Homo sapiens: one gene and its partners. The protein of the gene in region 4 interacts with the protein of the main gene of each other region in a pairwise test. Each region holds a gene or a part of one and is shown on either strand. Other genes may lie near its edges. The genes, in order: CBY2, GPRASP2, HPRT1 and EFCAB3.

Evidence for each region.
Region 1: the proteins of EFCAB3 (region 4) and CBY2 interact in binary tests that used the Homo sapiens proteins (3 or more experiments, as listed by UniProt).
Region 2: the proteins of EFCAB3 (region 4) and GPRASP2 interact in binary tests that used the Homo sapiens proteins (3 or more experiments, as listed by UniProt).
Region 3: the proteins of EFCAB3 (region 4) and HPRT1 interact in binary tests that used the Homo sapiens proteins (3 or more experiments, as listed by UniProt).

The regions. Positions count from the first base shown.
Region 1 is NC_000013.11:45,698,444-45,705,330, reverse strand, and holds the start of CBY2 (protein chibby homolog 2), read right to left. Parts: upstream 3,012-6,887; 5' UTR 2,941-3,011; coding exon 2,866-2,940; exon of another isoform or gene 2,816-2,865; intron 2,557-2,815; coding exon 2,476-2,556; intron 1,821-2,475; coding exon of another isoform or gene 1,740-1,820; intron 1-1,739.
Region 2 is NC_000023.11:102,708,640-102,715,472, reverse strand, and holds the start of GPRASP2 (G-protein coupled receptor-associated sorting protein 2), read right to left. Parts: upstream 3,026-6,833; 5' UTR 2,921-3,025; intron 2,634-2,920; exon of another isoform or gene 2,467-2,633; intron 2,383-2,466; exon of another isoform or gene 2,344-2,382; 5' UTR 2,256-2,343; intron 1,692-2,255; 5' UTR 1,624-1,691; intron 1,285-1,623; 5' UTR 1,207-1,284; intron 1,065-1,206; exon of another isoform or gene 937-1,064; 5' UTR 604-936; coding exon 1-603. Other genes in the region: ARMCX5-GPRASP2 (G-protein coupled receptor-associated sorting protein 2), read right to left, coding at 1-603. UniProt on the Homo sapiens protein: May play a role in regulation of a variety of G-protein coupled receptors.
Region 3 is NC_000023.11:134,484,142-134,491,170, forward strand, and holds part of HPRT1 (hypoxanthine-guanine phosphoribosyltransferase), read left to right. Parts: intron 1-2,323; coding exon 2,324-2,389; intron 2,390-6,046; coding exon 6,047-6,064; intron 6,065-7,029. UniProt on the Homo sapiens protein: Converts guanine to guanosine monophosphate, and hypoxanthine to inosine monophosphate. Transfers the 5-phosphoribosyl group from 5-phosphoribosylpyrophosphate onto the purine.
Region 4 is NC_000017.11:62,376,714-62,383,556, reverse strand, and holds the start of EFCAB3 (EF-hand calcium-binding domain-containing protein 3), read right to left. Parts: upstream 3,005-6,843; 5' UTR 2,944-3,004; intron 2,528-2,943; exon of another isoform or gene 2,487-2,527; coding exon of another isoform or gene 2,438-2,486; intron 1,962-2,437; exon of another isoform or gene 1,505-1,961; intron 595-1,504; coding exon of another isoform or gene 578-594; coding exon 504-577; intron 1-503.

The DNA of each region.
Region 1 (6,887 bases), on a different chromosome or scaffold from region 4:
TTAATGAAATTCACAGAGCACGTTCATTGGGGAAACGCGAAAGTCTGTGAGAACTGAATCATTACATACAAAAGGAACCAGGAGATCAGCTAGCTTGGGCTGGAAATGACACTGATGGCTTGCAAGTTAATGTGCTGGAGGGAAAGAGATCAGAAAACACAAATATTTAATGTGAGGAAGAAAAACAGGAAATCAATGAGTCCTGAAAAGACCTTAGGGTGATAACATGTAGTGATCACAGGCATTTCCAATGTAATTGAGAAGCCCAAACGCACAGCAGGACTGGCAGCTGGGAGCCAGAGGCAGTCTCTGGAGACAGAGCTGCTGCCACAAGTCCTTTCTGAAACAAATGGAAAGTGGACTCCATCCCAGAATAGAGCAGCTTTTGGCAAATACAAAATAAGAAGCCCAGAGATGAGTGGTTAAGATGCAGGGAGAAGACTCCATCTCCAAAAAGCAAGAGAAGAACCATGGAGCTAAGATGCAGCATGGCCCAGCTTACTGGCATGTGCCCTAGTATAGCGGAGAACATGGGCACTGATTTGAGTTCAAGCCCCTTCCTCGAGCTCTGCCATTACTAGTGGGGTTCCTGGGGTTGCCGGTTCCTGTACCTGTAAAATCTCTACCTCACACTTGCTTGGCCCCATGCCCGACACATGATCGCACCAACATTCAGTCAATATTTCTTCCTCTCCTTGCTTCCCAGATCAACCCTGTCCCCTAAGCCATGTGCCATCTCATTTAGGGAGGTAGAGTGAGCACACTGGTCCCTCTCGCAGGCCTGGTGGTATTTTGGTTCGGATCATCTAGTTGTAGACACCCACACCCATCCCCCAGAGTGCCAGTCTTGAGCATCCTGACAGGTGTCCAAAACCTGGTGCATGGCTTGTGCCCTCTTGGCAGGTGTACGCACGAAGCTGCATCTGCCCTTGTGAGGTACACGTGCCCAGACAGGAGATATCCTCTCATTCTTCACCCACTCTGCCCCACAAGACCCCAGCAGCAGCACCAGGTCCTCCAGCACAGGAAGCAGGCAGCCCCAAGACAAGCTTGAGCTGTCTTAAACCACCTTCTCTTCTCCTTGATCGTTGGGCTGTTTCTGGGAGCTGGGGAGGGAAAGTTGCGGTGGGTGTTGATGGAAACATCATTCCAATTTCTCTATCACATGACCACTACTCTTTCAAATCCTACCCCCTCCTTCACACCCACCCCTAGGTTGGCATCCTCTGCCTGACCAAGTTTCTTAAACACCAACTTTGCTAACATTACCGAGGGTTACTATCAGAGAACATTCAGCCATCTGAGGTACTTTCAAAGCATGTAAAGTTGAGGGGCCCCAGGATTCTGGAAGAAAAGATTGGTTTATATGGGCTATGAGGAATCACAGCAGTAACACCCACTCTTGGGGGAGTAGTGGCTAACACAACTCCCTGCGTATTTCAGGTGGAAAGAATCAGGCCCAAAAAGATTCCTACAGCTTGTTATCTTGTTGAATGATCAGGGGGAAGTTATCTTATATTCTGGCTAAGATTCATGGGCTAAAAGTAACAGAAAAGTGACTGTTCATTACAAAGTTATAAAGATAATGTGAAAATAAACATCCAGGATGTTTTCTTCTTCCATATTTTTGCCTCCCGCTGAACATACTTGCCTAGATTGTTACAATTATATATATGGAATGCCCACCAGTGGTCAATCCTCCTCCTACACATCCCTGGACAGAGCTCTCAGATAGTTACCTCTGCATTGGATTCCTCCATCCTACATTTCAACCCCTCTGGTTGCATGGCCCTGGTCTTCCAATGAGGACTTAGGTGACTCTGGAGAAAGCAAAGCCACCCCTTTGTGACATAGCAGCAGTAGAAACAATTCAATCAAGAGGACTCCACTAAGGAAACAGCTGATTGCAGGCAGGAGGAGACCTGAGACTCTATAGCCTGTGAGGACTTCACCAATTCATTGACTGAAAAAGCATCTATGCCCATGGCCCCTACATCTGTCTTTGATGCATAGCAGGGCTTAATTCTCTTGACAGCTCCAAATAACTCTGTACCCCTTTGTCCACGGATGAGGTTTTCTTCTCATGGATTCATTCTTATGCATTTGATTTCAAGTCCCAGTTCTAATTCTCCCCCAGAAATCCAGAGTGATTGCACAACACTAAGCACCAAAAGATCTCGTTTTGAGAAGGCTGGGTTACTTCAGTGTATCATAGAAACTTGGAATGTTAGGACTGGAAGTTCTTACCAGATCATCTGACCCAGCCACCTCATTCATGGGAAAAAGAACCCAAGGCCCAGAGGGGCTATGTGGCCTTCCCCAGCACACCGCCTGCTGGCACCCAACCCAAACTATAATCTGAAGCCCTGACTATCTCTGCTTATTCTACAACATCTTGCTAGAGTTTTGAAGGAGGAGATGGGGGGTTATTCTGGCTAACACTGATAGGTTACATCCTTCTGTGATTATCCCTACCTGAGGTAGAACCACACTGATTGGAATTTCTAGGCTTTCAGATCTGGTATCTCTTTTTCTTGTATAATTTGGCCTTGAGTGCTGTGGAAACGAGAAAAGAAGAAGATTACTGCTTCCCAGCTCATCCTCTGGGCCTCAATTGCTCGCCTAAAAAACACAGAACTTTCTACTCATTTATTTCTCTCTTGTCAATTATGTACAATTATGAAAGTCTGAGTCTGAAAGAACGTGTAGATGATATCTGGCATGATGGTTTATCAATCTCTGAACAGATATTAAGCTAGATATTATAGTTGATGTAAAAGGCTTTTGAAAGTTTTTGAAGTGGAGATAGCTGTACCTGCTTCCCTGTCTAAGATGATTATTTCTATCTCAAGTAAAAAGCCATACCAATGTGAGTTGCCAGGTATAGGTCCTATGCAGAAGTTGGTCACCAAAACACTCAGAACATTCCAGAGGTGACATCACAAAACAATATGGTGTTTTTCAGGGCTCATGGTTTCTCTCTGAGCATCACAGGTGGGAATGAGGCATCTGACAGGCAGGAAGAGCTTGTGGGTGCTGTGACTACTTGGCTGGTCAGGGTCAGTGTGACACACACAATAGCCCAAACATTAGCCCCCTGTTGGGTCATTCCAGCTGCCATTCGTATTCTCACTGCCAGGCTAAGTTGAGATCCCTATTCTCTCTCCAGAAGTGGCATCTTCTTGGAGTTGGGTCACTCAAGAAGAAAGAAACACAAACTGAACTCTTCCCATACCAAGGGAGAAAGTGTAGTCTGAGGTGTTTTCTGACACTACTCAATTCCTTAATTCTCTGACACCAACTGTGTGCCCTACAATTCAATTTCATCCTGATGCTATCTACCAGAGTTAGTGTTACAGAGCTGAAGCGGCTCACTACCCAATGCAATAGAAGCCAATACTAAAACACTAAGTTCTTTAAAAAAGAAAAACTTGTATATTGAAAGTCAACTCCCAAGGAGACAAGAGTCAAGCTCAAATCTGTCTCTCTGTGCTGACATTAAGGTAGTATTTTTATTAGAAAAGATTCAGGGGGTGGATTCTGAGATTAGTAGGTGATTGGTGGATGGAAATGGGAGGTCTGGAAAGTCCCAAAGAGTAAGAAACCAGTTACTTAATTTTTGAGTTTCAAGATAGCAGATAAGAAAAGAAACTTAAGCCGCTGAAACTCCCTCCACTTGTGAGATCAAGAAAAACCTGGCTGAAACTGGTTGGAACCAAGATGGCTAACTGGAGCTTGCACAGAATAAGCTTGCTGATGTCATAGCCTGAATTTCCACCACGTTTCATACTAACTCTCCCTGAATTTGCCATGCAACTCAGGAGTTAACATGAAGAAATAACTATGCATGCCCAAGGACTTTCCAGACCTCCCTTTTCCTTGCACAAATCACCTACTAATCTCAGAATCCACCCCCTGAACCTTTTCTAATAAAAGTACTGCCTTAATGCCAGCAGAAAGAGACAAATTTGAGCTTGACTCCTGTCTCCTTCAGAGGTGACTTTTAATATAAAGCTTTTCTTTTTTTCAAAAATTTGGTGTCAGTGTTGGCTTCTAGCACATTGGGCAGTGAGCCCCTTTTGCTTGTTAACAAACTAGAACCCCAGGTGAGACGAACAGCCTGTCCAAGGTACTGTTGCCCCTAGTGGTGTGCAGGCCCCCTGCACTGATCCTGAGTGGCCACCTAGACCAGGGTGTCCAGAGGCTCGACTATAGGGTTCCTTCTTCTCCACCATGGCACTTCAGGCTCCCTTGGCACTTCTCTTTTGGGAAAATAAATTGCTTCTGGATTAGACATCTTTCTGGTGAGTACCTTGTTAATATGCCCCTGTACTTTTAATTGTCTTTGAACTCATCATAACGACTGTGGGTTCAAGTCCCACCCTGTGGTTTAGGATTATGGATGAGAGTCCCAACCTTGTCTAGGATTGTGGATTTGAGTCCTACCCAAGGGGGATTCTGGTCAGTTCAGAGTCCCAAATCTGGTGTATGTTTAAGTCCCAAAGAATTAAGGCAATACTAAAAAGCTACAGCCACTAAGATAATCTAGTCTGGTTCTGATTTTTGTTGGTCTGTCTGTATTTTTGGTCTGTGTAGCAATATTTGGCTTAACAGAGGTCAAAGACTGTGATGGCTACAGCAGAAGCCTTATGAGATCTCCAGACTCCTGCACACTCAATTAGAACAAAGCAACTCCATAAACTAGAAAACCTGAAGAAAAATGGCACATGTAAAACATTTTCAGTCAATCCCTCTTTCTTCTTCTGTCCTTAAAGAGTTACCATGTAGTCTTCTAAGTTCTTTGCCTATTTTTCCTTCCTGACTACTCTGAATCTGCTGACTTTTCTGCTGGTGTTGAAATAAAACTTACTGTTCATGGTATTACTAGTTTCAGGTTACTGGCTAAAGAAAAAAAAGGAAAGAGGTCTTTTAAAATCAAAGTGCCCTGGAAACTGCTTTGCTCATCAGGGCAAATAAAATTTAGCCATGTGAACAGATTCCAGTTTTATCAGGAAAATAAGTTTGATCCAACTGTCTTGTTTATGCATATACATGCATTATGTTATATGTTGTGTCTATATGGTACCAAATTAGCTTATAAATAAAAGAGTACTGATAAATTAAATAAATAAGTCCAAATGCTTTCAAGTTCATTTGACTTTAATAATCTTTGGAAAATTAAAAAAAAATTATTGATAAAATAAAAATAGATATGTCTTCAGGATTGTCAGCATGTATTTTTGCCTGTGTTTACTGGTCAGCTGATATGTGCATCTGATAGTTATTTTAAGATGTCCAGGTTTGGCAAAAAGTTATGAAATTACAAACCCGGCCAAAACAGAATAATCTTTGTTTATGTGATTCTTTTGATAAATAAGACTAATTTAATATTGTTGGTTTAATGAAAACAATGAAATCCTCTGATTTATCAGCAAAATATCTGTGTATTTCACTTTAAAGTTCTTGCTTAGGTGAACACCTGATATTCACAAGCTGTAAAATGGTTAACAAGGAAATAACTTAAAATGGTGACTAGCTTTGTCTAATATCTCTATTCTCATAACTAATCTAGATAAACTGTTAAAAACAAATAAATTAGATAAATGTAAATGGGACAAATGTGTGTAAATGAAATTCTTATGTTTTTCAAAATCTTAAAGTTATGATACTTACTATCATACTTTACTTACTGAGCAGCTGGGTCACTTCCAATTAAGAAATGTATAAGGAAATGTTTCTAAAGATTAAAACATGGTTTTAAAATACATGAAATACTTATAATATTTTATCTTAAAATACTGATATATTGCAGACAATTCAAGATTTCTTACTTCCTAGGTTCTTCCCTAAAATCCCTAAAATAAGGATTACTAAGAGTTAATATTGTAACTTATATAAGTAATTGAAACTACTAGATACAAGAGAAACAATTCTATTTGCAGAATGTATACGAAAAATAGGATGTGTTTTTGGTAAACACACAAGAAGACAGGAATATGGTTTTCGTTTAAGGGCAAGTAATTTTGCCTAGTTTAGAGGTTCTAAAGGATTGTTTTAAATTGAAGGAATTAAAAAAGTGTAGATAAAACTAAATAAATATAGAAAGTTGAGAAAGAATGAAAATAAAACAAATTGTAAGAGGTTATAAAAGGTTTATGGAAATCTTACCTTGCAGTCAAAACAAATTGAGATTGAATAGATTTGTTTATAAGGTCTTATTAAAATTAGCTGTAATATTAAAAATGCGCTAATACAAAACTAAAAATTTTGGTTAAAGCAACAAAATTTTTTGAAGTATTGATTTGCTCTCAATGATATTGCAAGAAATATTGAGTTTAAATTCTAAAATTAAAACGTCAGATTTATATCTCAGAAGTTCAACTTTTCCTGCACCTTGTTACATATAAGTTGCAGATCACATTCATTATCTTCTGTTTTTTCCCCCTTGAAAAAAAAATATCTTTTTGCTTGGCTGGAATGATAACTGTCCTCTTCAACTTGTTCATCAACTCTTACAACTTTTTACCCCAGTCCTAATGCTGTTCTTATGGCATAATGCTAAAATATTTATCTTAAAAGTTTAGAAAAGCAATGTTTTCCTCAAATGTAATATAATTTTATACTCTTGGCCTTATGATATGTCTGAATTATTTCATATAACCAGGAAACCTCCCATGTAACTTTCTGTATTACTTTTGAGGTCTTTTGACTGTCATGCTAGTTAAATGAATAACTGTTATTTTTAAATGACCTGTAGCTCTGTTTTGATCAAATGTTTTGAATTTTTAACGTCTTTGGTAGGATTTATTTGGTAAAACTCTATGGGAGACACTATCAAATGCTAAATAATACTAGATCTTCTTTTGGTTATGTTTATGGGTATGCTA
Region 2 (6,833 bases), on a different chromosome or scaffold from region 4:
CTCCTCCCCTGGTCCAAACCAGGGCTGGATTCCTTTCTGACCCTGGGTGCCAGGAAAGGTTTCAGCATCCACATTGACTAGTTCTCTATCCATAGACAGGCCCTTAGATTTAGTAACTGATCCAGACTCAGCAGTGGCCAGTGGCCAAGCAACGGCATTAGTCTGGGACACTCCTTCTGCCTGTGACACTGCTTCAGTCCCAAATTCACTCTGGGCCCATGCCTGGGCCTCATCCTTGGGCCTTGCTCCAGGGATTGCCTTGGCATCAGTTTTAGAACGAGCGCCACCTACTGCCCTGGCATCGGTTTTGGGCCTGGCCCCTGTGATTCCTTGAGCCTCCGTTTTGGGTCTTGCACCACCCATTACTTGGACCTCAGTTTTGGGCCTTGCCCCAGACATTGCTTGGGCCTCAGTTTTGGGCCTTGCCGCAGGCACAGACTTGGTCTCAGTTTTGGGCCTTGCCCCAGTAGTTGCCTGGGTCCTAACCTTGGGTCTGACCACCAGAGGGACATCATTCTCTCTCTCAGGCCCAGCGATAACCTCTTCCCCAGCCTTCTTTTCAGGCTTGGCCTGGGCACTAGGCTCAATCTCTGCCCCAGTCATGGTACAAGTTACAAAGAAAGTCAGGTAATATACTCCTCCCGTAGTCTAAACCTCAACCACAGATCTGTCACAGGTTTGTTTCTTCACACTCTGATCTTTAGGTGATTAAGGATATAAGCTTGGGAATAAGAGTTAGAGTCAATATCCAGTCCAGTAGTCACTCAGCCTCCTTCCCAAACACAGTCTCAGTCAATAATTCAATAATACAGATAGAGTGAGAACAGGTACAACCAAGCTAAAGGAAGACAGATATTTCCTGGATGGGTGCAGACCCGTTGAGGGTGGTTGTCAGCAGCAACTCCACCACCAGCAGAGCAGCCACTGGAGGTGGATCTAGGGAGAGAGAATGAAATGAGGCTTTGAGTCTCTTCCAATTGTATGAGACGTATGCAGTGCGACTGATGTTGAATGCTAGGTGGGACAGCTGGGCTTTGAGAAAGTCTCTCTGGACCGGCTGCCTCCTACAAAACAGGTCCAACAATGGTGGGAAAGTGTGTCGGCAATGGGAGGGGCCAAGAAGCCCCCAGATTGGACCCTAATCACTCCCGGACCCATGCTGGTCTCCACTACCCCGCCCAAAAGTATACCCGCTCTCATACCAACCTTCACTGATGTGGTGCAGTTTCCCCCTCCTTTTCTTGTTCAAGTGGTGTCAAGCCCCACAGCTGACAGAAGGGGGTCCTACAGACAAGTGAACATACAGGAGAGAATGGAGTGTGAGTGCTTGGTAGGTAGGTGGGCACTCTGGCCCCTGTGACAAATATCTGTCTTCCCATTCAAGAGTTCAATGTATCTATGGTTTCCTGTGTCCTAGTCCCTGCTCTCAGGTCTTTTCTGAGTCACAACCCAACCTACACCTATCTCGTGTCTCCTGCAAGAAATAAAAAGGATGCTGGCACTGTGCAAATCCGGCAGAATAGAAGTGGGTCTGCCACTTCTACTACAGGTGGAAGTGGATCTGCCACCTGCCATGCTCTCTCCAACTGTCCCCTGCATTGTCCTCTCCCCCTTCTCACTAACCTCCAGAGCTGTGAGCCAGTCTCCTCCTCCTTGCCTTTCTTGCAGAATTGGCCAGCCTTAAAGTAGGCCTATGGACAAACACATGAAAAAGTAAGACAGTCAGGATATGAGTGGTGGCAGAAGAGCACTTGGTAGACAGGCCAACGCCAAGGATAAGAGTCCCCATATTATTGGTATCTGTCTTTCAACATTCGGGGTTTTGCTGGTGGAATATTCTCGTTTTATTTGGGCCCTGCTTCAAGGTTCCAGAGATAACAACTCCTTCTCTTGACGTCATATTCTTCCCATTACTCCCTTCTCCAATTCTGAGGATTCACCACTAGGTGCGCCACATCCCCTTGCTCTGCGCAGCATAAAATGGGGGAAGGGCGCCGCATATTCTAGAAAACAGGTTGTGAATTAGTACTTGTCAGTATGTCTCCCTCATCACCCCCACCTCCAAAGCCCACCCTTTCATGCCCCCAGTTTAGGACGGTGGGGGAGACAGGTGGGGATGGAAGGTGGGGGGAGCGCCATTAGAGAGGTGAAGATTAGGAGGTGCTCCTGGATGCCTGACTTGCTCTGGTCACAGTCCCCTACCCCGATTCGGGTCCCCAATCAGTGTTTAGCGCCCAACCCCCATCCCCACACACCTCCAGAAATCCAGGCAATATTCGTGCTCCTTTATTTCAAGCCTCTCCTCTACAGACGCTCACTGTGTCCTGTCAGAATACGCCAGACCTACCGCACAGACACAAGACTTTGACATCAACCTGGAGCCTGTGGGAAGGGAAGGCACCGAGGACATGGGGCCCCACAGGCCCCTTTCGGGAATCGGGACCCGGAGTAGCAAACGCGGCTCACCTCCGGCGGACTGGGTACAGAGCCGGGACGCCGACCCCCGCCGGCCTCGCCGGGCGCCCCCCAACGGCCTTCCCGGGCGCCCCCACAGCGGCTCCCGCTCCGCCATTTCTCCCGCAGGAGCCTCCCCCACAGCCCTCTCCGGGCACAGACACCGTCGAGGGCGGGGCGCGGGCGCCTGCAAAGCTGGCTGGGAAGCGGTCAGCGCGGTTCTCCTCCAAACGATCTGGCGGTGCCTCCCGAGCCAGCCCCTCAGCCCTTGGCCAGGCCCGCTCCGGTCACCGCCTCCCCATCGCCAGGGGTCTCGGGCACTGCGCACCTCTCTCAAGCGCCTGGCTCCGACCGGATCGTCTCCTCGTTGCCAGGCTGTCAGGGTCCGCGGGGCAGGCTGCCTGCTGGTCCACCCTGCCAGACCACCCCCGCAACCCGGACCCCCACCTCATGCACCCGCACTTGCCTTCAGAGGCCCAGGGCCCAGGTCGTCGGCCTCCCCCTCCTCTCCTCAGCTCTCCTCTGGCTCACTTGGAGCCACTGCTTTCCCCGCGATCCGAACGGGAAAGACGCGTCCCGCCCCCCACGCCTCTGCACCAAAGTAGGCAGGGGCTGCGCAGGATGCGGCAAGAACCGCTCGCCGCGAGGGTGTCGGGAAGGGGGGCGGAGGGATACGGCGCGAAAGTGCTTGACGCCCCCATCCCAGGCCCACCGTAGTTCCGACCCCGAGGTGGGCAGGGCCAGGATGAGCCCCAGCCTGGGCGTGCGGGTTGGCACCAGGCTGCCTCAGGAGGCCCCCACGGACCCTAACGTGGCGACCACTACCATATTTCTGTCGCTGCTGTAATATATGGGACCAGCGGGCGGCTGGGGGCCCGGGCAGGGGACAGGATCGCGAGGTCGGGAAGAGCCGCGCTGGAGAGAACAGCGGATGGATACCAAACCGCCCCGTGATGTGTCTGCACCCCCGCCCCAACCGCCCCCCTCACAGGGACTGCTGGGTGTCTGCCCCCTCCCTCTCCCCAGTCCCCTAACCCTCCTTTCTGGAAGCTGATGGGAAAGGGGGTGTCAGCACTGCAGTGTGGGAGGGGAGAGGCGATTTCAGGCCATACAGGCCCGGGGCTCTAGGGTGGTCCTCTTGTGCGTTTCTTTCCCAGCTTCGTGGAGCCACGCAGGGGAGGAAGGTACACCTGCTCTTAAGTGAACTCCGGGGCAGGGGGCTCCCATCAAGGACTCACCACTGCCCCTCTTCTAAAAGAAGGTAGACCTAGACCTCTAACCCTAGGAAACCAACCACTGGTCTGCACCAAACTCATTCCTTTCTGCCACACTGCTCTTTCTCATTTCAAATGGTGGCTCACGTTGGCATTGCGCCGTCGCCACAGTTGCCCCCAGAAGAGGACCTTTCCCTGTCAGGACCCGCAGGAGGTCATAACAGTCCTCTCTCTTTGATGCCGCCAGGTAGGGATGGTCCTGGCTCCTCTTCGGTTCCCTGTCAAGTCTTCTCTTGCCATGACATTTGGCAGTGTGGAAATGTGGCTGGTATTCGAACCAGCTTGGATCTCAGCCACCTGCCACAACTACCTGCTGTTTCAGCAGTCATTCTCAGGAGAGGATCCCACCGTGCACCCCCCTCCCCGAGACAAAGCAACCTGGCTCCTTTTGAATCCTCTTCTTTCACCCCAACATCCGTCCTCTACTCTTGAGCCCCTCCTTTCCCTGCTTCCTGCATGGGACAGACAGAGCAATGTGGTTAAATACGAAGTTGATGTTGTTGTTACTGCTGTCCATTTGAAAACTCATTTAGGTGCTACCCTTATTGTGTTTGGCAAGTAACGGTCCCCTAAAGATGTCCATGTCCTGTTCTCCAGAACATGTACCATTTTATATTTCCTGGCAAAGGATCATTAAGATTGCTAATCAGCTGAATTTAATTTAAGATTATGCTGGATTATCTTGGCCAATGTAATTGCAAGGGTACTTTAAATGTGGAAGAGGGAGGCAGTGACTCAATATCAGATTGAAGCATCATGAGAAGGTCTACACTGGCCATTGTTGGCTTTGAAGATGGAAGGAAGCCAAGATCCAAGAAATACAGGCTGTCTCCAGAACCTGGAAAAGACAAAGAAACAGATTCTTCCCTAGAAATGCCAGAGGGATAGCTCCTCTGGCAACATCTTGATTTTAGTGTAATGAAACCCTTTGCAGATTTCCAGCCTCTAGGACTGTAAGATAATAATAAATTTGTATTATTTTAAGCCCTTCTATGTGTGGTAATTGGTTAAAGCAGCAGTATGAACCTAATACACTCACCATCCTGATGAAGTCTATTCCCCTTGACTTTCTTTACCCGTGGATCAGTCTCTGGGGAAGATCTATTTTGGAGCTCATGCCTCACCACTACAAACATCAATTGCCTCTTCTTTGCTTCCTAAAGGACAGTGATTTTTTTTATGTCCCTTATAGGTAATCTTGGAGAAAGTTCCTTTTTGCTGAAACCACTGATATTTCCCAGGTACAAAAGGGAACCCTATTCTTTTGTTGTTGTTGTTGCTGGTTTTGAGAGGGACTATCGGTGTTGTTGCCCAGGCTGGCTGGAGTGCAATGGTGCCATCTTGGCTCACTGCAACCTCCGCCTCCTGGGTTCAAGTGATTCTCCTGCCTCAGCCTCCTGAGTAGCTGGGATTACAGGTATGCCCCAAGACGCCTGGCTTATTTTTTGTATTTTTAGTAGAGATGGGGTTTCTTTATGTTGGTCAGGCTTGTCTGGAACTCCTGACTTCAGGTGATCTGCCTGCCTCGGCCTCCCAAAGTGCTGGGATTACAGGCGTGAGCCACCGTGCCTGGCCAGGAGCCCTATTCTTATGATGAATTTTCATATATTTCCATACAGCTTTTGTTACCAGATATTTACTATAACTGTACAATATTTTGCTGATATGAAGAAAACATGTGAGGATGATTCTGTACCACATCTGGAGATGAATGTTATGTATTAGAGGAAGACCACGTTAACTCTGCCTTTTTCATGGCCTTAACTGAATGGTGGATTTTCTCTGTTCCACAGCATACTCTCATGAATGAATTACAGGCTTGGGAGAACAGAGCCTGGGTCTGCTGGAATTTGTTGGCGCGTGTACATCTCTTTGCCTTCCTGAGCTGTTCTTCCCCTTTCATAACGTTACTGATGCCTTTCATTTATTCAACAAATATATATTGAGCTCCTACTTTCTCCTAGGCAGTGGGCATACAGTATAAACCAAAGAGAAATGAATCCCCTTTCTTGTGGTGCTTACATTCACCTGTGGTTTCCTGTTCAATTCCCTATTCTGAAAGTTTGCAGATGTATCGAAAACTATGCCAGCACAAGTTACTGTGGTAATTCTGGAGGCGCTGGGATCTTGCTCTCAAGATATTTACCTATAGAGGGGTGGTTCTACCAAAAGCTGATCAATTTTACTGTGAGAATTTGAAACGTGTTGGGCAATTTGATGTCAATTCGTTTAGAAAACAGGGACTATGATAGACATTTACTGAACTGAGAAAGGCCCTGTTCTAACCTCTTTGTGTGTAAAGACATTATAGACTATTACCAGAATGTATTATAACTACCTCCTTATACCAGATGAGGAAACCAGCTCGGATAGTTTGTCATTTTTAAAGTGGAGAGTAAATAAAAAGTTAAAAGAAGATGCTGACCTATGCCTGTCTGACTGGTACAAGCTATTTATTTCCTCTTAAAATGTGTTCCAGTCTAATAGATTGCATCAGCCATGGTTTTACTCCTCAGTGCCTCCACCAGCACCTGTGTAACCCTGACTGGCTCCTAAAATCTAAATTTCCAAAACAAATAACTCACAAGCATTAAGCCCAGGACAAAGAGGCAGCTGTACTGACTCATGATACCCACCTCTCTGTCCCCAACCCCACCCCATCTCCCACATGCACGCTTGTGAACTTGCACACTCGTATATCCCTTGCCTGTGCAGCAGCTTGCATTACTTCCTTTTGTCCCTCTTACTCACTGTGGACAAGGACCTGTTTTAACCCTTTTAGCTTAACTTTGGACTTTCTACTGTCATTTTCATTTGCAATTCCCCAGACATGTGATATTTAGTATGTATTCATATGCTCATTTGCCATCTGAATATGTTTTTTGGCCAAGTGTCTGTTCCCATCATTTACCCAATTTTAAAATGGGTTGATTGTTTTCTTATTGTTAAGTTTAAGAATTCTTATGTATATTTTGGATAGCAATCTTTTATCAGATGTCTGTTTTGCAAATAGTTTCTCTGTGGCTTCTCTTTTTCAATCTCTTAACAGTTTATTTTGTAGAGGAGAATAATCTTTAATGAGACCCAACTTATCAATTTGTTCTT
Region 3 (7,029 bases), on a different chromosome or scaffold from region 4:
CTCCATACTTTTCAGTTCTTGAATATTTTTTCCTTTATTCCTCTTGTCTCTGTAAAGACATCAACTGGAGTTGGACTGTAATACCAGGTATCTCCAGAAGATGGCACTATTTAACAGATTTTATAAATAATTTGATGTGAGTCACTGTCATCTGAAGCTTGTTGCCTTTTCTTTCTTTCTTCTTTCTTTTTTTTCCCCATCAATTCTGTATGTTTGAAATGCTGGGTTTTAAGTTAGTTAGAATAAGGGATGTCTGTAATTTCCCTAAATTGAGAAGTAATATGCAAAGGTTGATATCAGAAGTCATATGCTCACCTTGCAACACCAAATAATACTGGCCCATTTGTGATTTTTGAAAGTAACACTCCATAATAAATGGATGTATATATAGAAGCATAACAAAAATAGAAGCACATAAAAGTGAAAAGTCTCATAAACGCCATTGTCACTACTCATGTAATTGCTGTTACAAATTTGTTTAAATGTTGAATAAAAATGGTGTCATAGGCAACACAGTGTTCCACTACTTGGTGTTTTTAATAGCATTATTCTGTCTCAGTGTGCTTTGGATTATCAGGTGCTTTTTAATAGTTGCATGGTATTACATTGTGTAGATGAACTTGATTAATTTAAATGGTTCCCTGTTAATGGACATGTTGGTTTGTTTTTGTGAACAACTGATACAGTGAACATTTATTTTTTAAATAAAAAAAAGAGAGACAGGGTCTTGCTGTGTTTCTCGGGCTGGCCTTGAACTCCTGGGGTCAAGCGATCGTCTTGCCTCTGCCTCCCTGGGATTACAGGCATGAAGCCACCGCACCCGGCCCAGTGAACACTCTTGAATGTATCTTTGTATACTTGTCAGTGTTTTTGTAGCATTGATTCCCAGAAGTGGGATTACTGGATTAAGTGACATGCATGTTTGCAATTTTAACAGGTATTGCTATGTCATTTTCAAAAGAAGCTATGCCAATTAATACTCTCACCAACAAGAGTGCTTATTTCCCCTCAGCATATTATCAGGCTTAAGTTTTGCCAGTATGGGTGGGAGAACAGTAGAATCACATTGTTTTAGTGTTTGTTTCTCAGATAGATATAATTTTACACCTTATAACCTTCTCTTCTATAAATTGTCTATTTGTGTTCATTCTCCATTTTCCTATGGGTTCTTATTGTTGGAGCCCAATATATAAAAGGGGGTATTTGTTACAGAACCTCTTCAGTTTTGGTTCATGTCATGCCTGGGTTTTTACCCTTTCTACGGATGTTAAAAAAAATTCTCTATTTTCTTCCAGTCCACTTATGGCTTTATTTTTTACATTTAGATTTTAATCCGTCTGGAATTTATTTTTGTGTATGCTGTGAGGTAGGGACCATACTTTTATTTTTTCCCAAATGGGTTACTAGTTGGCCAAACATCATTTATTGAATAATTCATCTTTTCCCTACTGACTCGAAATACCATCTTTATTGTATACTAAATCCTCATATAGTTCTGGGTCTGTTTCTGGGCTCTACTTTGTTCATTTACTGTGCTGGTACTGCACCGTTGTAATTGCTGTGGCTTTGTGGTATGGTATGGCTTGCTCTCTGCTAGGGCAAGTCGAAGCTCTTTTGTTCACCTGCTCTTTCACCCAAATTTTCTGTCCTGAATCCAGCACAGCCAAATTATGGTCATTGTCACCACCAACTACAGTGGGTGTTGAGCATTTCCCATTGAATCTCCTGTAAGGGTTTTATTGGATTCTGTGATAGCAGTAAAATGGGAGCCTAAGAGGTATTCCTTAAAGGACTACTAATCAGACCTGGTTTCCCAGATGATGCTGAAGATGACGGGGCCTGGGCTAGACTTTTGAGGGACATATCCTTGGGGTTGGGTGTGATATAGACCAGCCCTTACAATTTGCTTGACTCATGGGAATCGTACAGGGCCAGAACCAGACACCTGTCATGCTAATAACTTCCCTCACAATTCAGAAATCACTGTGATTGAAGATGGGTGGCTGTTATAATACTACCCACTTAAAAATGGATGTAACCCATTTTTTAGGACTCTTAAAAACATCAAATCAGTAATGGCCGATTAGGACTTTTTAATTTTTACTAATCTCTACTTGAAAGTTTTCTAGTCATTCATTTCAGGAAACCTAATTCTTATAATTCATATCATTTAGAATATCATAATGCTATGGATATTAGCTAGCTAACTTCTCAAATCTTCTAGTTCTCATTTAATTTGAAGTTTGTGTGTGTACATAAGGATATACATATACATATGTGTGTGTAGATATATATATATATAGTTTTTTTTTTTTTTAACTAGAATGACCAGTCAACAGGGGACATAAAAGTAATTGGTGGAGATGATCTCTCAACTTTAACTGGAAAGGTATGTATCTTGAAAGGGAAGAAAAAAAAGCACTTCATACCGAGTCAATTAGTAACAGTGTGCTTTCAATCAATCACTAAGAGATAATTTACATAGTATAACTAAATGGGTTATTTAACCCTTGGAAGCAGTCTAGGTTAATTATCGTTCCCTAGGTCATGTAGTAAAAAGACAGTAGAATCCAACATTAACCTTAAATGTCCATATTGTCAAGTACTGCTGTCTGCCTCTGTGGGACTCTAATTTGGGATCCTTCAAAAAACATTGATGGGGGAAAAGATAGCCTTTAAAAAAAAAAAAAAAACAAACCTATGTGAGTCTATGTGAGGTAGACTCACATAGTTTCCTAAAAGATAGCAAAGCAGTATTATGTAGTGGCTGAAAGTGTGAGTTCCGGAGCCTGACAACTGATTCAAAGCATGGCTTAGTACTTCCTAACTCTGACCTTGGGCAAGTTACTTAACCTCTCTGTGTCCCATATGTGATTAGGGTGAGGTTGATAATAGCAGCCATAGAGTTAAGAGGATTAAGTGCTATAATGCAAGTAGAGCTCTTACAACAGTTTCTGGTAAATCACTCAATAAATTCAGACATACTATTATTTTAAGAAATCTCAAAGAGTTTTCTTGTACCTTAAAATTCTCCTAGTGTGAACCATTGGTTTTGGTATATTGTGCTTCCATGTAGTTTAATATCAAGATGTTTTTAGATTTCCCTTTTAATTTATTTGTTGACCCATTGGTTGTTCAGGAGCATGCTGTTTACCTGAAAATAATGGAGATATTAAGGTATTTGAATATTTATCTTCTAGTACATTGAAAAACTTTTTGAGAGTAACCAATAATAAATGATGGAATGCTACTGCTTTTTTTTTTTGAAGCTGCCAGTTATTGTTTACTTACACTATGCCAAATATAAAGGCATTAATCTCATAAAAGTTTCACAACAATCCTGTGAGGGAGACGATATCCCCATTTTACAAATCAGGAAATTAAGACTTAATAAGGTTAAAAGACTTGCCCAAAGTCACAGAACCAGTAAGTGGTAGAGCTTGAATTTGAATACAGACCTGACTCTAAAGCTCTTTTCTTTCTTTAGATTTTAGTGTTCATTGCTTACTTGAATGAGTATCTATAAGAAAACTTTAACATGTAAAACTTCTGTGAAATTATCTTGTCCCATATCAGGGTCATGTCAAACTAATGTCCTCCTCAGCATCTTTGGAAAACTTCAGAGGAGAAATGAGCTTTGCCCCTCCTGTTCATTTCATATACCACTGTTAGACCTGTCCTTCCCTTTCAGCATGCTTTGTCCATATTTAGAAGCTGTTGAAGCCATTACTTGTCTGGTCAGTTTTTAGTGCTGGAATGGACCTAGCCTTTTAGGCCTTCTGAGATTTAGTTTGATCTCGTCTTTCCCACCTAATGGCTCTGTTCTACTACATAGATTTGATCTGAAACAGTTCTCTGTTTCTAAAATAACTTTCTTTTCATGATAGTCACAGTAAAGTACATTTATTATGGAAAAATCAATAAGTATAACGAGTGAAAGTTATTTCTTGGTGGTAAGATTATGGGATTATTTGAACTTTCTGTTTCATTGTATTTTATTTATTTATTTATTTTTGTGATGGAGTCTCACTCTGCTGCCCAGGCTGGAGTGCAGTAGTACGATCTTGGCTCACTGCAACCTCCCCTTCCCAGTTCAAGTGATTCTCCTGCCTCAGACTCCCAAGTAGCTGGGATTACAGGCGCACGCCACCATGCCTGGCTAATTTTTTTATCTTTAGTAGAGACAGGGTTTCACCATGTTGACCAGGCTGATCTCCAACTCCTGATCTCAGGTATCCACCTGCCTCAGCCTCCCAAAGTACCGGGATTACGGGTGTGAGCCACCCTGCCTGGCCTCATTTTGTCTTTTGGGGGTATTTTTGTGTGCAGATATATATGTATATAAATATTTTTCCCTCTTTTCCCCAGTTAGTATTTGAGCAGATGAACTTTGGACCCGAATACCTGTATTCAAGTCTCTAATACCACTTCTTGGCTATTTTCATTTTATCAAATGGCCTCTTATCCTCGTTTTTCTCATTTATTAAGTAGAGATGTAACTACTTGATATAATTCAAAAACTCAATAATGGCATTCTTTTGTTTTTTAGACTCTAGTGTCTGTACTCGTTGTACCATGCTGGGATTCATTTGAACAATTGCATGGCTTTTTTAGTGTATTATTAAATTTGCAGTTTACTTAGAATTTACTGGGACCTCATACAAATGGGAAAAAAACATAACTGTGTTACTCATTTGCTGTGTGCCTTTGGATTGACCCTATTTTTTGTATTCATTTTCTCCCCATGTCCTGAGTTCCACTTTGAATAAAAAGTAATTTTTTTCCTGCCTGTAAAATAGGCTACCAATAGGCTGCAGTTGTCTATAGTAGCTGCTTCACTGAGGAGAGCTCAGCATGAGAGAAATAGTATGAATTGCTTGCCACAAGTTATGGGCTAGCCTTACTTCATTCTGTACTTGGACCTGTTTAGGCTTCTAAGAGATCTTACCTCCAACAATAAACTGCTTTGAGACATGAAAAGGTGGAAGCTTTACTTGGTTATAACTTTACTTTTAATACCTAGAACAGTGAGTCTTCAAACTTGTATTTGCATGCCCAATTTATAAAAAGTTTCCTGAGCATTTACCCCTAATATATGCATTTTAAATTATATATGATTTATGGTAATAATAATATATATGTTACAAAATACATACAAAAATATAGATTAAACAAGGTGAGGTAAAAAATTTAAAAGTTCTAATCTTTCTTGCAAACCAGTGGATCTTTTGTGCCTTACTCTGGTAAACACTGTCTTAGAAGAATATATAGAACATTAAAATCTTAATGCTATAGTTATATGACAGAGTATGATGAGAGCTACAGATAAACAACACATCATGAATCTTCTTGTGGCAGTGTTTATAACCATTATGTGAAATGCTGCCTCATTCTTATAACTAGCATAAGAACAGATAGGACTTTCTCGATTTTGAGGGGTAATTATTAGATGGTATTTTCTGTTAAGGACTCTTCCAGCTATAAAATTCTTAAATGTAGAAAGCGAAGTGAGGGTTTATGGTGAGAGGAAGCATTGGTATCATGTTTTAGTGTAGTCCAAGAATATGGACACATCCAGAAAATGCAGATCAAGTTTAGCCTAATGAGAAAATATATTTTGGAGTCCATATGGTAAATTAAATTATGTGATTTTTGAGTTATTGTACAAATATAATTCTTAGAATGTTAGAGTCAGGAGACTATAAGAGACCAACTGCTTCAAGTTTCATTTAACACATGGGAAACTAAGGCCAGAGAAATTTCAAGACTTGCCCAAGATTAGACCTCTTGTTAAGTAATGAAAGTGTTTTAAAAACAGGTGGGTCAAATTCTGTTTTTAAAATTTCCATTATGATGAAAATTTCAGTATTACAGGCTTCCAAATCCCAGCAGATGGGCCACTTGTTTAAAGGAGAGTTTGATATAATAAAGCATCTAAAAACAAGAGTTTGGATAATTCCTTAGGGTTGTTATGATGTGATTTGACTTATAATTGGAAATACCGTTTTATTCATTGTACTGATTTTCATTTCTCTTTTTCTTCTAGAATGTCTTGATTGTGGAAGTAAGTTCACATTTACTTTTAATATAACATTTATGACTTTTCTAACTTAGTATGCACCATCCTAAAGGTAAGCCAGGGAGAGAAATTCCTCTGCATCAGTTTTAATGGTGGGCTTGTGTTCTAAAGGAGTGAGATTGGTTTTTTGTAAAGACTACTTAGTAATTTGTTTTTACCAATAATGGAATGGTATACTTCCTACCTCTCTTTTTTTAGTTTGAAGTATTTTCTTTCTAAACATAACTCTCTCTCTCTATTTATCTATATATAATATATACATATATATCTTATATTTTATGTATATATATATATATCTTGCTTAGATTTTGTCTTATGTAATATTTGGTACATAAAAAATAATATTTATAATTTATAGACTATTTTCCATGTGTTATTATGTGCTAAAGTATTTTGTATCTTAGCACCGAGAGGCTAAGCAGTTTCCTAGGGTTACCAGCTAGTAAACTAAGGGAAACCTTTACTTCCTTTAGCTCAGTGGTTCTCAAAATGTGGTTCCCTAGACCAAAAGTATTAATATCAGACAAGAACCTACCGAATCAAAATATCTGTGATGAGGCCCAGCAAGCTATGCTTTAACAAGTTTCCGAGTGATTCTGATGCATGCTAAGGTTTAGGATCCCTTGTTTTTACTCATAAGTCACTTTCTCATTAAGGCCTTCCCTGGCCATCCTATATAAAATCTCATGTTTTCACACCGTCAACTTCGTATTCCTCCTCAATACTTTTATTTTCCTGATCACTTATCACTAACAGCCTCTCTCTCTCTCTCTCTCTCTCTCTATGTATATATATATATATATCACTTATCACTGTCTAACAGCCTCTCTTTATATATATATAATCTATAGATTATATATATATGCAGCATTGTGCAATCATTATCACGCTCAATTTTAAAACATTTTCATTGCCCCACAAAGAAACCCAATCCCCTTAGCCATCACTCC
Region 4 (6,843 bases):
TATCATATAATAAATATTTGAAGAGTATTTTAATTGTTTCATCATAATCTTTATGAGCATTTAATATATTAGTAATTTTTTTTTGAGATGGAGTCTTGCTCTGTCACCAGGCTGGAGTGCAGTGGCACAATGTCAACTCACTGCAACCTCTGTCCCCCAAGTTCAAGCAATTCTCCTGCCTCAGCCTCTCGAGTAGCTGGCACCACAGGCGCACACCACCATGCCTGGCTAATTTTTGTATTTTTAGTAGAGACGGAGTTTCACCATGTTGGCCAGGATGGTCTCGATCTCTTGACCTCATGATCCGCCCACCTCGGCCTCCCAAAGTGCTGAGATTACAGGTGTGAGCCACTGCATCTGGCCAATAATCTCAATAATTTTCTTTTTTTTAGGGGCTTCCCAGTAAAGATCGGAAAACCTGCTAGACAAAATTCTAAAAGAGCTGTAACACTAATAATTCTTTATCATAATACATTTATCACCCTTAATCATTCATTACCTACCTTTTATTGTGGGAGATGGGTACTTTTGTTAGAGGATTCAGCTTAAGTTTTGGTTTAATTTCTGAAACTGCCATGTGGCCAGTGACTCTGTCTGGAATTCAGAATATACAATTAAGAAATCAGTTTACAGATTCATTCTTTATATTCTTTTGCAACTTTTTCAGCTCAAAGCCTGGAGTTTGAAAAGTCTAGGGCCTCAAGAAATGGTAATAGATGCAAACTCAAGTTAGAGGTATGCATAAAGTTGGAATGCCATGTGGAAATTCCCCTTCGTTGTTCCCGATTTCTGAGCAAAGTTGCTTGTCACTGCTCCCCCTTCAATTAGTGTCACTCTGATCCTATGTAAGAATAAATGCTAAGTGAAATAAGCCAGACACAGAAAGACCAATGCTATATGATCTAACTAATATGTATAATCTAAAATAGTTTAACTCATAGAAGCAGAGAGTAGAATGGTGGTTGAGGAAGGAGATATGGGGAGATGTTGGTGATACAAAGTTTGAAGATGAATAAATTCTGAAGATCTAATGAACAGCATGGTGACTACAGGTAATAATACTACTGTAATGTATACCTGAAATTTGCTAAGAGATTAGATCCTAAGTGTTCTCACTACACACACACACACACACAAATAGTAACTAAGTGAAGTGATGAATATGTTAATTAGATTGATTGTGGTGATTGTTTAACAATGTATACATATATCAAATTATCAAGTTGTACACCTTAAATAATAAAAATGGTGCCATGTGACACAGATAATGAGCATTCTGGAAATATATGGAAAAAGTTATTTAAAGATGCTATTTTATTATGAAATCAGTAGAGCATTTCAAGTCATAATTGACAAAGAATAAAATGTATTTGCCTACTTGTTTACATCTTAGATACCTGCCTAGTAGTAAGTAGATTTTCCCAGGGTTTCTTTTGGGGAGACTCATCCCTGCCCTGTCACTTCTTGGGACCAACTGTTGTTTGTTTGTTTGTTTTTGTTTTTGGATGTGTAAAAGGCTTTATTTGCAGGGGAGCAGGAATTTAATAAAAGAGACCAAATCCCATGTCATCGTCTGACTCTTTGGACACCTCCTCCTCCTCCTCATCTTCTCCTCTGCTGCAGCGGGGGTGGAACCAGCAGCAGGAGCTGCACAGCCTGGGGCAGCAGAGACAGCCACAGCCCCACCGGCAGGTACACTGGCAACCTTGCCAATACCCTGGGCAATGACATCTTCAATGCTTTTTCCATTCAGCTCACTGATAACCTCGTTGAGCCGGTCGTCGTCCGCCTCGATGCCTACGCTGTCCAGGATCCTCTTGATGTCTTTGGCTCTGAGGGAGGTGCTGCCCCCGAGGGCAGCCAGCAGGAGGGAGGTGACCGAGCGCACTGGGGGCGGGCGTCTACGGAGGCGGTGGCAAGGCCTCCATGCGTGCGATCTTGGTGGAGTCAGGGAGGAAAAGCCCAGGTGGTCTTGGTTAACAGTAGGAATGGGGGTGGGATACAATGCAGTTCTGCTACCCTAGACCCCGGAAGGAACTTGTGAATTACCGTCGCCTTTCCACTTGGCATAGTTTGAGAAACAGGGCTTATGGACCAGAAGCTGGGTTGGTAGGGCTTCCCCCTCTCTTGTTATTTGAACCAAGCCAAATGTCCAACAATGATAGACTGGATTAAGAAAATGTGGCACATATACACCATGGAATACTATGCAGCCATAAAAAATGATGAGTTCATGTCCTTTGTAGGCACATGGATGAAGCTGGAAACCATCATTCTCAGCAAACTATCGCAAGGACAAAAAACCGAACACCGCGTGTTCTCACTCATAGGTGGGAATTGAACAATGAGAACACACGGACACAGGAAGGGGAACATCACACACTGGGGCCTGTTGTGGGGTGGGGGGAGGGGGGAGGGATAGCATTAGGAGATATACCTGATGTTAAATGACGAGTTGATGGATGCAGCACACCAACATGGCACATGTATACGTATGTAACTAACCTGCACGTTGTGCACGTGTACCCTAAAACTTAAAGTATAATAATAATAAAAAAATGTAGAGTGTATTTGATAGTTCACTGACAAGAAAACTAGGTTGCTGACTTAGGAATAATGGATAATTGAATACTATCCAACCATGAGGAAAAAAAGTCTCTGAATGTTTGGTTAGAATTTGATCCATTTTCCCAGGTCTCCACCTCAGAGCCCAGAAAGCAGTTGTTTCTAAACAACTCAATTACAAGTCCTCAAAATCTGAAAACCTGCCACAGAGCTGGGAACACCAGAATGGCTCAACAATTCAGGCATTTGAAAGGTGCTGTGAAATCATCCCCATACCTCAAAATAATCATTTCTTTAAAAAAATACCTTCAATTCTCATAGATAATAGATTTTTTAAAAAGGACTTAGCATAGAATCCTACAAAATCACGATATTTACCTACTTTTAAGCCGTGCTACCTACCACTTCTGGGCTTCAATCAGATCAGGAATCCAATAAAGGGTTTGTTCCATCACACAACTGTGACCTCATTCACTGCTCAGGCTCAAGCCTAGGGAGAGAATGACCCAGGAGCTCCTTCCAACCTTACAGCAAGTGTGTTTTCAGTGTGGTTCATTCAGCACCCTTGGTGTATATGAGGGTATGATTTATAAAATCTGAACATTTTGACACTGTTGGAATTTCAGGGAAGGGGGAGAATTTTTGTTTCAAGTTCTATATTAATATATTTTCATGTTAATGTCTTCATCAGGCTGGGTGTGGTGGCTCATGCCTGTGATCCCAGCACTTTGGGGGGCCGAGGCGGGCAGATCACCTGAGGTCAGGAGTTTGAAACCAGCCTGGCCAAATGATGAAACCCTCATCTCTATTAAAAATACAAAAATTAGCTTGGTGTGGTGGTGCACACCTGTAATCCCAGCTACTCAGGAGGCTGAGGCAGGAGAATTGCTTGAACTTGGGAGGCAGAGGTTGCAGTGAACTGAGATCACGCCCCTGCACTCTAGCCTGGGCGACAGAGCGAGACTTTTGTCTCAGAAAAAAAGAGAAAGTCTTCATCAGTCAGTTGAAAGTTGTTCAATTAAAACATTTTACTCAGCTGCCTTCACTGAATGGTGATTAAGAATCATTTCATTAATTGTTTAAGCCTAGAAAGAGAGGCAAAAAAACTCTCATAGGCTGTCTTTAGTATTATTGGGAAAAGTGCTTTCAAAAGAACAATTACAGAAAAGATTGTTTTAAGCAGAAACCAAGGTATTCATGATCTGACATGTCTCATGGCATTATAAATACTCTAGCGCAGGAGTTAGGAGTGTCTTTAGTCTATCATGGCTAAGTACAGATATCTCTGGCACCCAAGGCTTAGCTAGTTATATAGTTGGGCCCCTAAAAGTGCTTCAGGTTTCACTTGCAGCAGTTCTAGAGGTTTCCTATTCCTGCTCAGGGGGATTTGTTCATTATGAGCATAATTTGACTTTAACCTAATCTTTTTAAGCTTGGTACACTGCCTCCCATTCTGGACAGGAACACACAAGGAAAGAAAGGGAAGGCTTAATTTATAAATTAATTCAACAATTATTTACTAAGAGCCTACTATATTAAAGGCTACTTACTTAGATTTTTTTTTTTTTTTTTTTGGTGAGGTCTCACTATGTTGCCCAGGGTTGAGTGCAGTAGCAGGATCATGGTTCACTACAGTCTCGACCTCCCAGGCTCAAGTGAGTCTTCCACCTCAGCCTCCCCAGTAGCCAGGACTACAAGGTGCAGGCCACCATGCCCAGCTACTTTTTTGTATTTTTGGTAGAGATGAGGTTTCACTATGTTGCCCAGACTGGTCTCGAAATCCTGGCCCCCAGCAATCTCCTTGGCCTCCCAAAGTGCTGGGATTACAGGCGTGAGCTACCATGCCCAGCCTTATTGTTGTGTTACAGCATTCTTTATATATTTTGGAGACTAGATCCTTATCAATTACATAATTCACAGATATTTTTCCCTATTCTGTGGGTTGTCTTTTTACTTTATTGATAATGTTCTTTCAGCCACAGAAGTTAGTCCTGGAATTTTAAAGCTGAAAGATAACTAATAGATCATCAACCTAATTCTGCCCCCAACCCACCACATTTTTTTTTTTGTTATACTTTAAGTTCTGGGACACATGTGCAGAACGTGCAGGTTTGTTATATAGGTATACACGTGCCATGCGGGTTTGCTGCACCCATCAACCTGTAATCTACATGAGGTATTTCTCCTAATGCTATCTCTCCCCTAGCCCCCCACCCCCCTACCCCCCAACAGGCCCTGGTGTGTGATGTTCCCCTCCCTGTGTCCATGCCCATTTCATTTTTTTTAAAAAAGAGACAAGTTCTTTCTTTGTTAGCTGAGGCTGAAGTGCGGTGGTGCAGTGATGGCTCAATGCAGCCTCCAATTCCTGGGCTCAAGTGATCCTTCCACTCAGCCTCCCGAGTAGCTAGGACTACAGTAGGCAAGTGCCACTACAACTGATTAATTTTAAAATTTTTTATAGAGAGGGGGCCTCGCTGAATTTCCCAGGCTGGACTCATAGTCCTGGCTTCAAGTGATCTTCCTGCCTCCGCCTCCCAAGGCTCTAGGATTACAGGTGTGAGCCAGTGCTCCAGGTCCTCACCCATTTTATTTTACTGCTAAGGACACTAAAGCCCAATGAACTGAATTAATTTCCTTAATGGCAGAGTCAGGAACACCTGCTTTGTAAATTGTACTGTGATACCAAATAGGCTACAGTGTTCTTAGAGGTTAAAAAAATCATAAATGGAGCATTAGAAAAGAATATAAAATACCTGATAATCACATGTGATTCAGTGTGGTGTGGACTATAAAGGTACAAGGAACTTAGAAAGAAAGTTGGAGAGATAACGGTGTTCATTCACTTTATGGACAAGTAGATGGAGGATAGAAACTGACAAGACAATTAGGGAAAGTAACTAAGGTATTAAAAAATGTAAGTCAAAGTATTAAGCCCCATCTTTACAATGGCTTCACATCAGCTTTCACACTCACCTTTAATATCATTTGCAGTTTTCAACTTATGCAGAGTCACCATTCCTTTTGCTTAAAGACAAGATTAAGAATCAAAATTACATGAATTTCTGAAGTTATGGAAAGTAGACTAGGAGGGCATAATTTATCTTATTTTTTTCCCCAGATGAGTGAAAAAATTAAGAAAATGTCAAGGTTATATGGGATATCCATCTTTCATATTGTTTCTTTTGGTGCCTTAATGCATTGCACTCCAAAAGCAAAAATTGAAAAGCACTATAGTGTCAGCATTGAAATCAAGACTATTCATTTATCATCTTTTAGGATGTAAAGAAGTGGAATGACTTTGAAAATCTGTTGATTCAGGAGGAAGATGATCTGTTACCCACTTCATTTTCATGAATGCTTTGTTTAGGAAGGTATTGACTAATTAGATACCTTTTAATGAGATAGATATTTCTTTCTAGTGAATTATCCTATCAAATATGTGGGTATAATTAACTAACTGCAAAATCTCCCTTCACCCCACCCCTTTCTATGGCCAGAACAACAACCAATCAAAACCTTAATAGTACAGATTTAACTTTTTTTCTTTTCTTTCCTCTAAAAATGTGGGAGTAGTTTTGTTTTCTAAGCATGAGGAGATTAATACTCAGGAAAAAAGTGTGGCTATAATAACTCAGTTTCCTATGTTTGGTTTGGTTTGGCCTGGCCAGATAAACCAATAATGTATTATTTTAATATCAAAAAAGGTCCATGGCAGATGATGAAACACAGAAACATGGAAAATGCTTGGTGATCCCTTTAGGTTATAGAGGCTATATAAGGTAATATATAATGCAGAAAGCAATACATATAAAGAAGAAATATCTTTCCTATGGGGAAAGGATTAATTCTAATATGAAACACATAATCTGTAGAATTCAGAAAAACCTACACCTATGAAGCAGCTTTTCTTTTCCTGCCTCTGATCTGGTCACTCTCTCTCTCTCTCTCTATTGCTTGGCTCTTCTCCCTTCCTGGATATTAGTTTGCTAGAGGCACCCTATGCCATTCTTAGACACTGCACGTGGCAACATGATGGTTGAGAATGTGACTTAGAAGATGACAAGAAGCAGACTTTATTTTTATATGGCGACTTTTTTTCTAAATGTATGTTAGACTTTCTCTGTGTCCCTAGTAAGTAAAGTTTTAGAAATTCTCATGTGGAACCTTACAACCCCAGTGCCTCTGAAGGCCAGAGTGAAGTTCTGAATGTTCACCATCAAATAACATAAATTTTAGCAGGTCTTGAAGTTGTTCATATATGAATGTTATTTCCACGTT